Linked DNA regions of Homo sapiens. The protein of the gene in region 2 purifies or fractionates together with the protein of the main gene of each other region. This does not show direct contact. Each region holds a gene or a part of one and is shown on either strand. Other genes may lie near its edges.

Region 1 (3,500 bases), on a different chromosome or scaffold from region 2:
ACATTTCCTGTCTTAGCAGTTAGACCTCAGCTTCTGACAAAGTCTTGGGCCCAGTATAGAAAGCAGATCAGAGTAGGTTTGTTGTGCTGGAAAGGAGAGGGAGGACTCACAGGGCTGCCACAGCACGTGCTTCCAGGGGGTGCCATTGACACCCTAATGCCCCAACCACCAAAGCACTTCTCTGCCCAGCCCTTTACAGGGGAGGGACCAGGGCACAGGCTCCTGAGCAGGCTCTTGGTGCACCCCGGCCTCTGTGAACAGGGCTGGCTCTCCCTTCTGGATAACTACCTAGAGGCAGGTCCCAGAAACCCTGGGCACATCCAACCAGGGGCTGTGAAAGGTGCTCTGGGGCCTGGTTGGCATTGGCTTTCCTCAAATCCAGTTCCCCACTGAGTTGTCCATGCTGGCGTCCGACGTTTCCTCTCCTCACCTTCTCTCTTGACCCCACTCCTATCGAGCTCTTGCTCCTCCGCCTGCTGAGATGGCTCATAGCCCAGTCCTATCCTGGGGGCTGCTCCATCAGCCTCCTCCCACTCAGGGTTCAGGGTTCAGTCCCCTAGTACCTGGTACCTCCTTTCACTCCCAGCCCCCGCCTCCTCTCGGGCCGCCCTTTCCAGACTCCCTCGATGCCTCCTGCCCACCCACCCAGGCAACTGGTGATGGGGGAGGTCTGCTGGGGGCTGCTGTATCCCGTCCCCAAGCTCCATCCCAGAAGCACCTCCTCTCAAGGCCTGGTGCCTGGTGACCTTCTCCTGTCTCGTTTTAAACACCTTGTACACTTGGACAACTCTCAAATTCATATCGCCAGCCCAGCCCTCCCTCCTGACTTCTGCCTACTCAGTGCCTGTTTGGACATCAAATGAGTCTCAAGTTAACATGAGCCCGTGGAACCCCTGGCTCCCATCCTCCCACTAGAAGCTGCTCTGTGTGCTCCTCCCTCCCTCTAAATGTGTCTCATTCCACCACGTGGAGGTATCTCTACTTCTGCTCGTCCTCCTGTATCCCACACCGAGGCCACCAGCAGATGCAGCTCCCCTGGCAGGTACATCAGATTCTGACCACTCACACCCTCCACAGCCACCCCCACTGTGCCAGTGCCATCTGGTGACGACAGCAGCTCTGCAGGCCCCACCCGCTGACCTGCTCTCATGGCAGCAACAGGGCCGTTGTCAACATGCTTCTGGCCAGAACCCTCGAGGGGCTCCCATCTCACTCAGAGCAAAAGCTCAAGCCCTGACAATGACCTCAAGGGCCTGCTTGCCCCAGCCGGACTCTGGCCACCCTCACCTCCACCACCTTCCCCAGCCTCACCCACCACCTGGCCCCTCCACGTGTGCTTCCTGCCGCCATGCCTGCCAGTGTTTCCACTGGGCCACTCGAGGCCCACTTGCTCCCTCATTCCCCTCAGTCTCCCCTATCCAGACGCCTTCCCCAACCACCCTGCATCAAATAGCAGCCCCCAGCAGCTCTCCCCCATCACTAATAGCCTGATTCGTTCTCTCACACTACCTCCTGACATATCATCTCTCTGACTCTTCTGTTTACCACCTCACACACGTGTGCACACTCACTTGGAACACAGGCCCTGGGAAGGTGGGGCTGTGTCGACTGCCCCATCCCCAGCTCCTGGAACAGTGGCTAGGTGGGATGGACAGCAGGTGCACAGTCAGCCTTCCCGACTGGGTTGTTAAGCAGTTCTCCCACACCTTGCCCACCCTCCACAGCCGTCTCCTTGCATGAGGCTCGGCCAGCACAGAGAGGCCAGAGGGCCAGGTTGCCCATCTAAAGGAGGTTTGCCCTGGCTGGGAAAGGAAGAGCAGGACCAAACGCTTCCAGGCTGGTGTCCAGCTGCAGATGACAGCAGAGGGCGTCCTCACAGCTTGGAAGCAGAGGTCATGGGCGCCAGGGCGGGGCAGGCACAGAGGCTTGGGAGAGGCTCCTTCTGGCTGAGACCAGAGCCTGCCCAGATGCCACTGGCTGGCGAGGAGGCTGTGAGGCCGGGGGCGTGTACAGGTCTGCTCTGCAGCCTCGGCTCTCTCACCCCATCCCCACACCGTTCCTGTCCACGGAGGGCAGTCAGGCTCAGGAGAGGAGGCCAGGAGTCCTGTTTAAATTTTTTTTCTGGATTTTTAAAATGCTGATGATGTCCAGTTTAAGAGCGTGGGGTCTGGAGCCAGTCAGAACTGGGCTGGAATCCCAGCCAAGTGCATTTTCTTTTTTTCTTTTTTTTTTTTTTCTCCCCGAGACAGAGTCTTGCTCTGTCACCCAGGCTGGAGTACAGTGGCACGATCTCAACTCACTGCAACCTCCGCCTCCTGGGTTGAAGCGATTCTCCTGCCTCAGCCTCCTGAGTGCTGGGATTATAGGCACCTGCCACCAGGCCCAGCTAATTTTTGCATTTTTAGTAGAGATGGGGTTTCACCATGTTGGCCAGGATGGTCTCAAAATCCTGACCTCATGATCCGCCCACCTTGGCCTCCCAAAGTGCTGGGATTACAGGCGTGAGCCACCGCACCCGGCTGCCAAGTTCATTTTCTCGCAGTGTGACTTCAAGCTTACCTCCCTGAGCCTTGGAAGCCACCCTTCTGTTTTCTTTTCTTAGGGGCATTCTCACAAGGATTGTCACTGGGTTCTATCAGTGAACACCCTAGCTGGCGAAGTCATCTGCCCTTTCCAGCCCTGTGGACATCCATGAGCTGGTCAGCATGCCCATCTCTCATGCAGTGGTAACTGCAGGTCCAGCCAGCAAGCTGGCCCCCAGCAGGTCCTGGAGCAGATGCAGCCTGGGACCCCACATCGTTCTGTGGTTCAGACACTTGGGGCTCCTCCCTGTGGGCTGCTTGTGGTTTGCCCCGGCAGCAGGGATGGGTGGCCTGGCAGGCTCCATGGATCACTGAGTCTTCCTTCAGGCCTGGCCCAGCTCCCCACTTCCTGATTTCCCAGATCCTACCCTGGCTTTAGGTTCAAACTTAACCCACAATGAACCCCAAAGCCCTTGCAGGCAGCGTCCTCTGAGTGCTTGGCCTGAGGCCTGGGCAGGTGACTTGCAAAAGCCTGGTCTGTCCCCACAGCAGGAGGTAGCAGGGGTAAAGAGCCCTGATTCCAAAGACCGGGTCCCAGGGAGGCCCAGCCGCTGTATGGCTGTGCAGCCCTGAGCCTCCAAGAGCATCAAATTGGAAGGGGCACACAGACCCCTTGGTAAGTGAGAAGGAAGTGTGGAGAAGGCAGGGAACTGCTCAGGGGCCGCTGAAGCCCCAGACAGTAATAAAATTATGGCCTCTGGAGCCAAGGGTCCGGGTCACAGCCTCAGGCAAGGTACTTACCTTCGATGAGCCCCAGTTTTAGTACATTTAACTCAGGGAAATTACACATGAAACATGGTTACACATGCAAAGAATAGAACCTATCTGTTGGCCATTATTATCTTTTAAATGAAAAAATGACAAAACAGTATTATAATAAACATGGTAGTCTCATATAAAAGCTTGATCTTGTCTGAG
Region 2 (3,500 bases):
ATAGGTTTTAACATAAGGATATCTGTTCATTTGAGTTGTATACTTTTACCTGAAATATATGGCAGATGCCGTCTTGTGGTATCTTAATTTTAGCTGCTATAACAAATTTCCATAGACTGTGTGGCTTAAACAACAGACACTTATTTCTCACAGTTCTGGAGGCTGGGAAGTCTGAGAGCAGGATGCCACCATGCGCAGCTTGTGGTGTGGGCTGTTCCTGGTTGTAGACAGCTGCCTTCTTGCTGTGTCCTCCCATGGCAGAGAGCAGACAGGAAGCAAGCTTTTTGTTGTCTCTATTTATAAGGGCACTAATCACATCGAGAGGGCTCCACCCTCATGGCCTAATTGCCTCCAAAAGGCCCCATCTCCAAATACCATCATGTTTTGGGGAATTTGAGTTTCAATATGTGAATCTGGGGAGGACACAAACATTTAGTCCATAGCATGAAGCTAATTCCATTTCATCAGTTACATCACATTATGCTCTGCTTGGGGATTAATATTTCAGTCTCTGTGAGTTTTATGTGTTTTACTACGCAAGTATTCTTTCGTCAGATACTACTAGATGGGAAGATAAACAAAAATGTGAATATATAAATGACATCTGTTTTTTTTCTTTAACTAAAGGTCTGGAATTAACTTTCTTCTCTGGTGTATATGGAACCTGTATTGGTGCTACAAATAAATTTGGAGCAGAAGAGAAAAGCCTTATTGGACTTTCTGGCATTTTCATCGGCATTGGAGAAATTTTAGGTTGGTTTTAAAAAAAAGCGTTTGCATTAAAAATATCAGTTTATTATAGGTAAAATAGAAATTTTAAGTGTGCTTCACCTTTGTCCTTGAATTTCTGTTTTTTCTACTTATTTTTACCCAAACGTGTGTTTTTATTTTTCTATTATTGCTATTCTTTTTCTTTTTTTTTTTTTTTTTCCAGACAGAGTCTCGCTCTGTCGCCGAGGCTAGAGTTGGAGTGCAGTGGTGCGATCTCAGCTCACTGCAAGCTCCGCCTCCCGGGTTCACGCCATTCTTCTGCCTCAGCCTCCCGAGTAGCTGGGACTACAGGCGCCCGCCACTATGCCCGGCTAATTTTTTTGTATTTTTAGTAGAGACGGGGTTTCACCGCATTAGCCAGGATGGTCTCGATCTCCTGACCTCATGATCCGCCCACCTCGGCCTCCCAAAGTGCTGGGATTACAGGTGTGAGCCACCATGCCCGGCCTATTATTGCTATTCTAATATAACTAAATTATAAAACATTTGCAAAATAATTCACAGATGGAAACCCTGTGTAAGAAAACATACAATGTCTCCCGACTTTTCCTCCTAAAATATTTAGAAAGTCTTGGAATTCCTGACTCTGGTTCTCTGATTCCCTGTCACCAACTGGGTGTCCAACAGCTCAATCCTGTTCTAACACTTAACTCTCCAAAGTTAGTGTCAGATTCCACAGGTTTAAGGGTTCAGTCCTACAGACAGACAGTCTGGGTCCATAGGCCTCTCAGGCACACCTCTCTGACTTGGGTACAAATTTGGAGGTTCCCATAGCCCTCTTCCCCCTTCATGTTTGATAATTTGCTAGAGCAACTCACAGAACTCAGGAAAATGCTCTCCTGACTATTAGAGTTTATTATAAAGGATACAGATGAGCAGCCTGATGAGGAGGTGCAAAGGGTGGGGTCTGAAAGGGTCCCTAAGTGCAGGAGCCTCTGTCTCCATGGATTTTGGGCTCACCACTCCAGAAGCTCCTCCAACCCTGTTTAGGGGGATTTATGGAGATCCTGTTACATAGGCATGCTTGATTAAATCATTGGCCACATGGCCGGGTGCAGTGGCTCATTCACTTTGGGAGGCCGAGGTGGGAGGATCACTTGAGCCCAGGAGTTCGAGATCAGCCTGGACAACATAAGGAGACCCTGTCTCTAACAACAACAAAAAAACAATCATTGGCCATTGGTGATTGATTTAATCTCCAGCCTTCCCTCCCTGAAGTGGGAGTGAAAGGGGCCTGGAAGTTCTAGCCCTCAGGGCTTGGTCTTTCTGGGAACCAGCCTCATCCTGAAGCTCTATCCTAGGCCAACCCCTCTCTCCCCAAGGGTTGCCCCCTTAGCGTAAACTTCAGTATGGTTGAAAGTGGCTCTTTCTGAATAACTAATGTCCCTCGTATCACTGAGGAAATTCCAGGCCTTTTAGGATTTCTGTGCCAAGAACTAGCAGCAAAGACCAAATATGTATTTTTATTATGCTCCACGAGTTATTCTTTGTTCAACAAAGATTTGTTCAGCACTTGCAGTATATTGAATATTGTGTTAGATATGAGGAACTTCAACAAAGGTTTATTGTAATCTGTCATGTCAACAAAATAGACAAAAATACCTGCCCATATAGAGCTTATATTCTTGAGGAAGAATACAGACAATAAAAACAGAAATCTTTGTATGTCAGGCAGTGGTAAGCACCATGGGTAAAGCGGACTTTGGAGGGTTTGTTTGTTTTTGCTTTTTGGCCCCTGCCTTATTGCCAACACCTGGAGCAGGACAAGGTCTATATTGGGCATCCAATAAATGAGTTAAATGTGTTGAATGAATAATGAGAACATGGTTTCAGCAGAACTTAGTAACCAGTTGCGTGGTGGTGTGAGGAGAGATGTCTAGAATGATGACCAGGTTGATCAGAGTAACCTGGGCAGAGAGAATGCTGTAGGAGATGGGGTTTGAGGAAATCTGCTGAATGGGATTTTGAACACCTCTAAGTACCAGAGAGGCACCCAAGTAGAGAAGTGTCCAGTGGGAAATGCAGGCTGATGCTCAGGAGGGACTCGTGGGCTGGAGGTTGATGTTGGGAGTTATGGGTATGTAAATGGCGGGCGAAGCTTAGCCATGGTGAGTCAGTGCAGGGTTGTCTTCTCTGGTAAGTGCTTGTTTAGTGTCTGCCTGTAGACTACCTGGGAAGAAACTCACTTTCTGTAGGCAACCTGCTTTTTTGAAAAAAATAATTTCAAATTGATAAGAAATTGCGAAAATAGGCCAGGCACAGTGCTCACGCCTATAATTCTAGCACTTTGGGGAGCTGAGGTGGGCAGATCGCTTGAGTTCAGGAGTTTGAGACCAGCCTGGGCAACATGGCAAAACCCCATCTCTACAAAAAAAGTACAAAAAAATTAGCCAGGTGTAGTGGCGTATGCCTGTCGTCCCAGCTACTTGGGAGGCTGAAGTGGGAGGTTGCAGTGAATCCAGATCACACCACTGCACTCCAGCCTGGGCCACAGAGCAAGATTCTGTCTCAAAAAAACCAAAAAACCAAAACAAAAAAAGAAATTGCAAAAATAAAAATAGTACAATGAACATCTGAATATCCTTTAACAGGATTCATCTATTGTTAACGCTCTACCTTAGTAACTTTTTTTTTTTTTTTTTTTTAAGGACAGAGTCTTGCTCTGTTGCCCAGGCTGGGGTGCAGTGGCTCGATCTTGGCTCACTGCAACCTTCGCTGCTGGGATTCAA
Region 3 (2,407 bases), on a different chromosome or scaffold from region 2:
CGTCTCCAACCACCAGAGCATCCTGGACATGATGGGTAGGCCGGGCCTCGGGGGTGGCTTCTGGGGTTTGAGTGGGGCCGGCTGAGCTGGGGCTGTGTGGGGCTGGGTCCCGGGGACGAGGACACAGGGCTGCCTGTGCCTGGGCGAGCTCGGCCTCAGTACCTCCCTCAGGGCCAGACACAGAGGCTCGGAGGCCACACGACCCGTCCAGGTAGCCAGGGAGAAGGCAGGGTGCCAGGCAGGCCTGTGGGTGCTCAGCAGCTGTCTTCCAGCGCACGCTGTCTCCCCCTCTCTCTCTGTCTCTGTCTCTCTGTCTCCCAGGCCTCATGGAGGTCCTTCCGGAGCGCTGCGTGCAGATCGCCAAGCGGGAGCTGCTCTTCCTGGGGCCCGTGGGCCTCATCATGTACCTCGGGGGCGTCTTCTTCATCAACCGGCAGCGCTCTAGCACTGCCATGACAGTGATGGCCGACCTGGGCGAGCGCATGGTCAGGGAGAACGTGAGTGTGCAGGGCCGGGCTCGGTGGGGTTGGGGTGGGGCCTGGGCGGGGCCAGGCAGGGGCCAGCTTGTGACTTGGTTTTGGCAGAAAAAACAAGACCCCCACATCATCCATGCTCCGCAGGTGGGGTCCCACGCCAGACCCCTACATCATCCATGCTCCGCAGATGGGGTCCCATGCCAGCTGCTTTGCGAAGTGGGGCTTCTTAGGAGGCGAGGCGGCGTGGCCTTTCTGGGGTGGCCTGGGCGTGAGGTCAGTCCAGGCTCTCCTCTCCCTGCAGCTCAAAGTGTGGATCTATCCCGAGGGTACTCGCAACGACAATGGGGACCTGCTGCCTTTTAAGAAGGGCGCCTTCTACCTGGCAGTCCAGGCACAGGTAGGCTGAGCCCAGCCCTCCCTGGGTGGGTGCAGGCTGGGGAGGCGGGGTCAGGCTGGCTTAAGGCAGCAGGTGACCACCAGCCGAGCTGAGGACCCTTGACACACAAGGGACTCCTCCCACTGAGTTGGGGACAGGGCCTCCTTGCCCCTTCCTGCACTTGCCCCCTGACCGACCAGGGAGGGCAGCCCCTTGGGCCTTTTGCCCACACAGAGCCCAGAGTGACCAGCTGCCCTTGGTGGGCACCCAGTGCTTGGCCTGCGAGGCTGGGCAGGTAGAGGGGTGGGGAGCCGGGCCGCTCGCCTCTGCTGCAGAGCTCTCAGGAGGCTCATTTCTGGGCCTGTGCCTGGCTGGGGTGGGCTTCAGGGCATGGGCAGTGGGTCTGGACAAGCCAGGCTTTTGGTGTAGTATCAGGCCAGACCAGAGCTCAGGGTGGGTGGAGCTCATTGTAAGCAGCGCCTCCAGACTCTGGACTTCCTGGTCCCCAGCCTCCAGGGGTGCAGTGCATCCTAGGGTGTCTGGGAGAGGCCAGGGTATAGCCATTCCCCCAGCACCTGTCCTGCCTCTGCCGCTGTGCTGGGAAGAGTTGCGTCAGGAGAAGGAGCTTTTACCCATCTGGGTGGGGTCTCGCTCAGGGCAGGGGTCTCAGCTCCTTCCCTCACACTGGCCACTAGTGGCCCCCAGTGCCTGGCCCTGTGCAAGGTGGTGGGGAGGGGGCCCTCCTTCCAGAGGCTCCCAGCTAAGGCCGTGAGGCCTGGGGAGCCCCGGAGGCGCTGGGCTGGGTGAGCATCCTTGGGCTCTGATCCCAGCCCTGCCCAGGTGCGGGGCACACCTGCCCAGCCTGGGGCTGATGTCACTTCCCTTTGGGGGCAGAGTGAGGGCTGGATCAGCTCTGGGAGAGCAGAGGGGAGACGGGCGGCTGTGATGGGGTGGCTGGGGGTGGCCGCAGTGCAGCTTCAGCCAGGAGACCCACAGCTTTTCCGTCCCTGCTCCCGGTCCCCAGCCTACCTGCTGGCCCCCTCCCTCCCTGCTGCCAGTCCCCAGCCTACCTGCTGGCCCCCTCCCTCCCTGCTCCCAGTCCCCAGCCTACCTGCTGGCCTCCTCCCTCCCTGCTGCCAGTCCCCAGCCTACCTGCTGGCCTCCTCCCTTCCTGCTGCCAGTCCCCAGCCTACCTGCTGGCCCCCTCCCTCCCTGCTCCCAGTCCCCAGCCTACCTGCTGGCCCCCTCCCTTCCTGCTGCCAGTCCCCAGCCTACCTGCTGGCCCCCTGGAGGTTCCCTGGCTGCCTCGGGTTAATGATCACCCCCAAGTGCCCTTGGATTTGACCCCGGTGACTTCCAGGAACACCAGCAGGCTCCACCCCTCCCCCGGGCTAGGGCTGCCTCCCTCACTGGCTTCCTGAGATGGAGAGGACTGGGAGAGAGGCGTGGGCAGGGAAGAGTGCCATAATCTCCTCCTAAACCGGACAGGGCCCTGCCCCCCTGGCTAGCTGCAGACCCAATATGGGGACAGGTGTGAACCAGGCAAACACGTGCT
Region 4 (3,500 bases), about 72 Mb from region 2:
CCTGACCCCAATGATCTACCCGCCTCGGCCTCCCAAAGTGCTGGGATTACAGGCATGAGCCAAAGCGACTGGTCAGCAGTATCAAAATATTAAATGCATATACCCTTTAATATCATTAAATATACATGGTAATTACATGTCTAGGAATACATCTAATACAATGCCTAGGCAAATGTTGTGTTCATCACATTGTTTGTAAGAGTGAAAAATGGGAAATAATATAAGTGTCTAATCTCTCACACAGGTATTAAGTGAAAAAATAAGTCACAGAAGAGGTTGCATGATCTCATTTATGTTGAAACAAAAGTAACACGTGCATGCACATGTGAAAATATGCAGGAAGGCTGGGCAAGGTGGCTCATGCCTGTAATCCCAGCCCTTTGGGAAGCCGAAGCGGGTGGATCACTTAAGGTCAGGAGTTCGTGACCAGCCTGGCCAACATGGTGAAATCCTATCTCTACTAAAAATACAAAAATCAGCTGAGCATAGTGGTGCACGCCTGTAATCCCAGCTACTCAGGAGGCCGAGGCAGGAGAATCGCTTGAACCCAGGGGGCAGAGACTGCAGTGAGCTGGTATCGCGCCACTGCACTCCAGCTTGGGCGACAGAGCCAGACTCCATCTCAAAAACCAAACCAAACCAAAACAAAACAAACGAACAAACAAAACTTCCTTCCATGACTGCCCTGTGTGCCTGTGATATTAGCACATGGGACCCTGTGAGATCAGGTGCCACTGACTCCCAGCTTCTCCTCTGACTGCTCCTCCTCACTCAGTAACAACAATATGTCCTGGTGGTTCCCAAACACCCTGAGCTATTTCTGTCTTCTGTGCCTGGACTGTTCTGCATTTTCTTTATCTTGTATAGTTCCATGAGGATCAGCAAGTGTATGTTCCCACGCAATCACCAGTCCTATCAAAATATAGGACATTTTTATCGTCCTGGAATGTTCCCTCGTGTGCCCCACTATAGGCAATCATTTCCCCATACCCTGCCACAGGCAACTGCTGATCTGATTTCCATCACTGTGGATTGGTTTTGGCTGTTTTAGAAGTTTATAGCCAGGTGCAGTGGCTCAAGCCTGTAATCCCAGCACTTTGGGAGGCCGAGGTGGGCAGATCACGAAGTCAGGAGATCGAGACCATCCTGGCCAACATGGTGAAACCCTGGCTCTACTAAAAATACAAAAATTAGCTGGACATGGTGGCATATGCCTGTAATCCTAGCTACTCAGGAGGCTGAGGCAGAAGAATCACTTGAACCGGGGAGTCAGAGGTTGCAGTGAGGTGGGATCCTGCCACTGCACTCCAGCCTGGTGACAGAGACAGACTCCATCTCAAAAAAAAAAAAAAAAAACCAAAACAAAAATTAGCTGGGTGTGGTGGCATGCACCTGTGATCCCAGCTACTTGGGAGGCTGAGGCAGGAGAATCCCTTGAACCTGGGAGGCTGAGGTTGCAGTGAGCTGAGATTGTGCCACTGCACGCTAGCCTGGGCAACAAGAGCGAAACTCTGCCTTAAAAAAAAAAAAGTATATAGGCCAGGCACTGTCGCTCATGCCTGCAATCCAGCACTTTGGGGAGGCCGAGGCAGGATGATCCCTTGAGCCCAGGAGTTCGAGACCACACCCGTCTAATTTTTAAAATTTTTTGTAAAAAAAAATGTTTTTAATTAGCCGGGTGTGGTGGCATGTGTCTGTAGTCTCAGCTACTTGGGAGGCTGAGGCAGGAGGATGATTTGAGCCTGGGAGGTTGAAGTTGCCGTGAGCCATGATCACACTACTGCACTACACGCCTGGTGACAGAGCAAGACACTGTCTCCAACAAAAACCAACAAAATTAATATTGTGTCAGTCTCTGATTTAAAGCAAAACTACCTGAGGGTCACCACCTCCTGGAAACCTGTCCTGATATCCCTGCTGGGCCAGGTACTTCCTGTCTGTGCGTGTCACCTTCTACCTATCACCAGTACGGCAAGTTCACATTGTTTCACGATTTGATCACCTACTTCCCTAACCCAGAGAGGACTGTGTGTTACTGCCAGCACTGCTAGGTGCTTAGAAAAATGTTTATTAAGGCTGGGCACGGTGGCTCACGCCTGTAATCCCAGCACTTCGGGAGGCCGAGGCGGGCGGATCACCCGAGGTCAGGAGTTCGAGAAGAGCCTGGCCAACATGGTGAAACCCCCGTCTCTACTAAAAATACAAAAATTAGCCAGGTGTGGTGGTGGGCGCCTGTAATCCCGGCTACTCGGGAGGCTGAGGCAGAAGAATCGCTTGAACCTGGGAGGCGGAGGTTGCAGTGAGCCGAGATCAACAGAACAAAACTCTCTCTCAAAAAAAAAAAAAAAAAAAAAGAAAAGAAAATGTTTATTAAATGAAGGACTAAATCAGAGAGATTTGAGAAGATCATGGAGAACAGAGAGGGTCAGTATTGTAGAGAGGGGTTTAAAAGGTTATAGGAGGTTAGAGAGGTCAAGGGTCAGAAGAGATGACCAAGTTTGGGGGTCAGAAAGGTCGGCGCGAAATCAGAGAGATCAATGTGGTTAAAGATGTCAAAGGTCAGGAAGATTAAAGAAGTCACGGGGCGGGTCATTGAGGTCAGGAGGGTTCAGATGAGAAAAGAGAGGATGAAGGACTCAGAGATTACACAGGGGGTCAAGAAAGCCACAGACAAGCTCAGAAGGGATGTCAGTGTCTCACCACCGGGCCAAGGTCCCAGGCCGGGGTGGGGCGTAGCTGTCATGCCGGTGCAGCTGTAGGAAGTCTCTGCCTGGGCCCTGTGCCAGCTCAGTGATCTCTTGGGCCCACCACCGTGCCTGCCGGTAGCTGCTGCACTTGAGAATCAAGGACCTGGATGGGAACGATGAGATGTCCATAAATCCTCGCCCTCCATACCTGTGATCTTGCCTAGAGACCTCCCCTTTCCCACTTCCTCCCTTAGTCCCTAATCACAACTGCACAGGGATAGGGCGTGTATGTATCTGCCTTATTTATTTATTTATTTTTGAGACAGAGTTTAGCTCTTGTCCCCCAGGCTGGAGTGCAGTGGTGCGATCTCTGCTCACTGCAACCTCTGCACCCCAGCTTCAAGCGATTCTCCTGCCTCAGCCTCCCAAATAGCTGGGATTACAGGCACGCACCACCACGCCCGGCTAATTTTTGTATTTTTAGTAGAGACAAGGTTTTAGCATGTTGGCTGGGCTGGTCTCGAACTCCTGACCTCAGGTGATCCACCCGCCTCGGCCTCCCAAAGTGCTGGGATTGTAGGTGTGAGCCACCGCGCCCGGCCATATCCACCTTACTCATAGTTGGATCCTAGTATTGCATCAGCAACCAGTATTGTACCAGGCACTCGGGTTTGTTGAATGAACAAATGAACAAATGGAATTTCGTTTATGTCAGCAGTTCCCTTCCCAGGCTTCTACTAATCCCCTTTCTCTGGGCCCAGTCTAAGAGCAGTCCCAAGCATCTGGCTAGACCAGTTCCTGGTTCAAAACTAT

The links. The genes of interacting proteins can lie anywhere in the genome.
Region 1: the proteins of MFSD11 (region 2) and GNAO1 purify together in Homo sapiens (affinity purification with mass spectrometry; one large-scale study listed by BioGRID and IntAct). This does not show direct contact.
Region 3: the proteins of MFSD11 (region 2) and AGPAT2 purify together in Homo sapiens (affinity purification with mass spectrometry; one large-scale study listed by BioGRID and IntAct). This does not show direct contact.
Region 4: the proteins of MFSD11 (region 2) and PLD2 purify together in Homo sapiens (affinity purification with mass spectrometry; one large-scale study listed by BioGRID and IntAct). This does not show direct contact.

The regions. Positions count from the first base shown.
Region 1 is NC_000016.10:56,330,989-56,334,488, forward strand, and holds part of GNAO1 (guanine nucleotide-binding protein G(o) subunit alpha), read left to right. Parts: intron 1-3,500. UniProt on the Homo sapiens protein: Guanine nucleotide-binding proteins (G proteins) function as transducers downstream of G protein-coupled receptors (GPCRs) in numerous signaling cascades.
Region 2 is NC_000017.11:76,769,119-76,772,618, forward strand, and holds part of MFSD11 (UNC93-like protein MFSD11), read left to right. Parts: intron 1-627; coding exon 628-753; intron 754-3,500.
Region 3 is NC_000009.12:136,675,051-136,677,457, reverse strand, and holds part of AGPAT2 (1-acyl-sn-glycerol-3-phosphate acyltransferase beta), read left to right. Parts: coding exon 1-35; intron 36-321; coding exon 322-497; intron 498-777; coding exon 778-873; intron 874-2,407. UniProt on the Homo sapiens protein: Converts 1-acyl-sn-glycerol-3-phosphate (lysophosphatidic acid or LPA) into 1,2-diacyl-sn-glycerol-3-phosphate (phosphatidic acid or PA) by incorporating an acyl moiety at the sn-2 position of the glycerol backbone.
Region 4 is NC_000017.11:4,810,152-4,813,651, reverse strand, and holds part of PLD2 (phospholipase D2), read right to left. Parts: intron 2,851-3,500; coding exon 2,701-2,850; intron 1-2,700.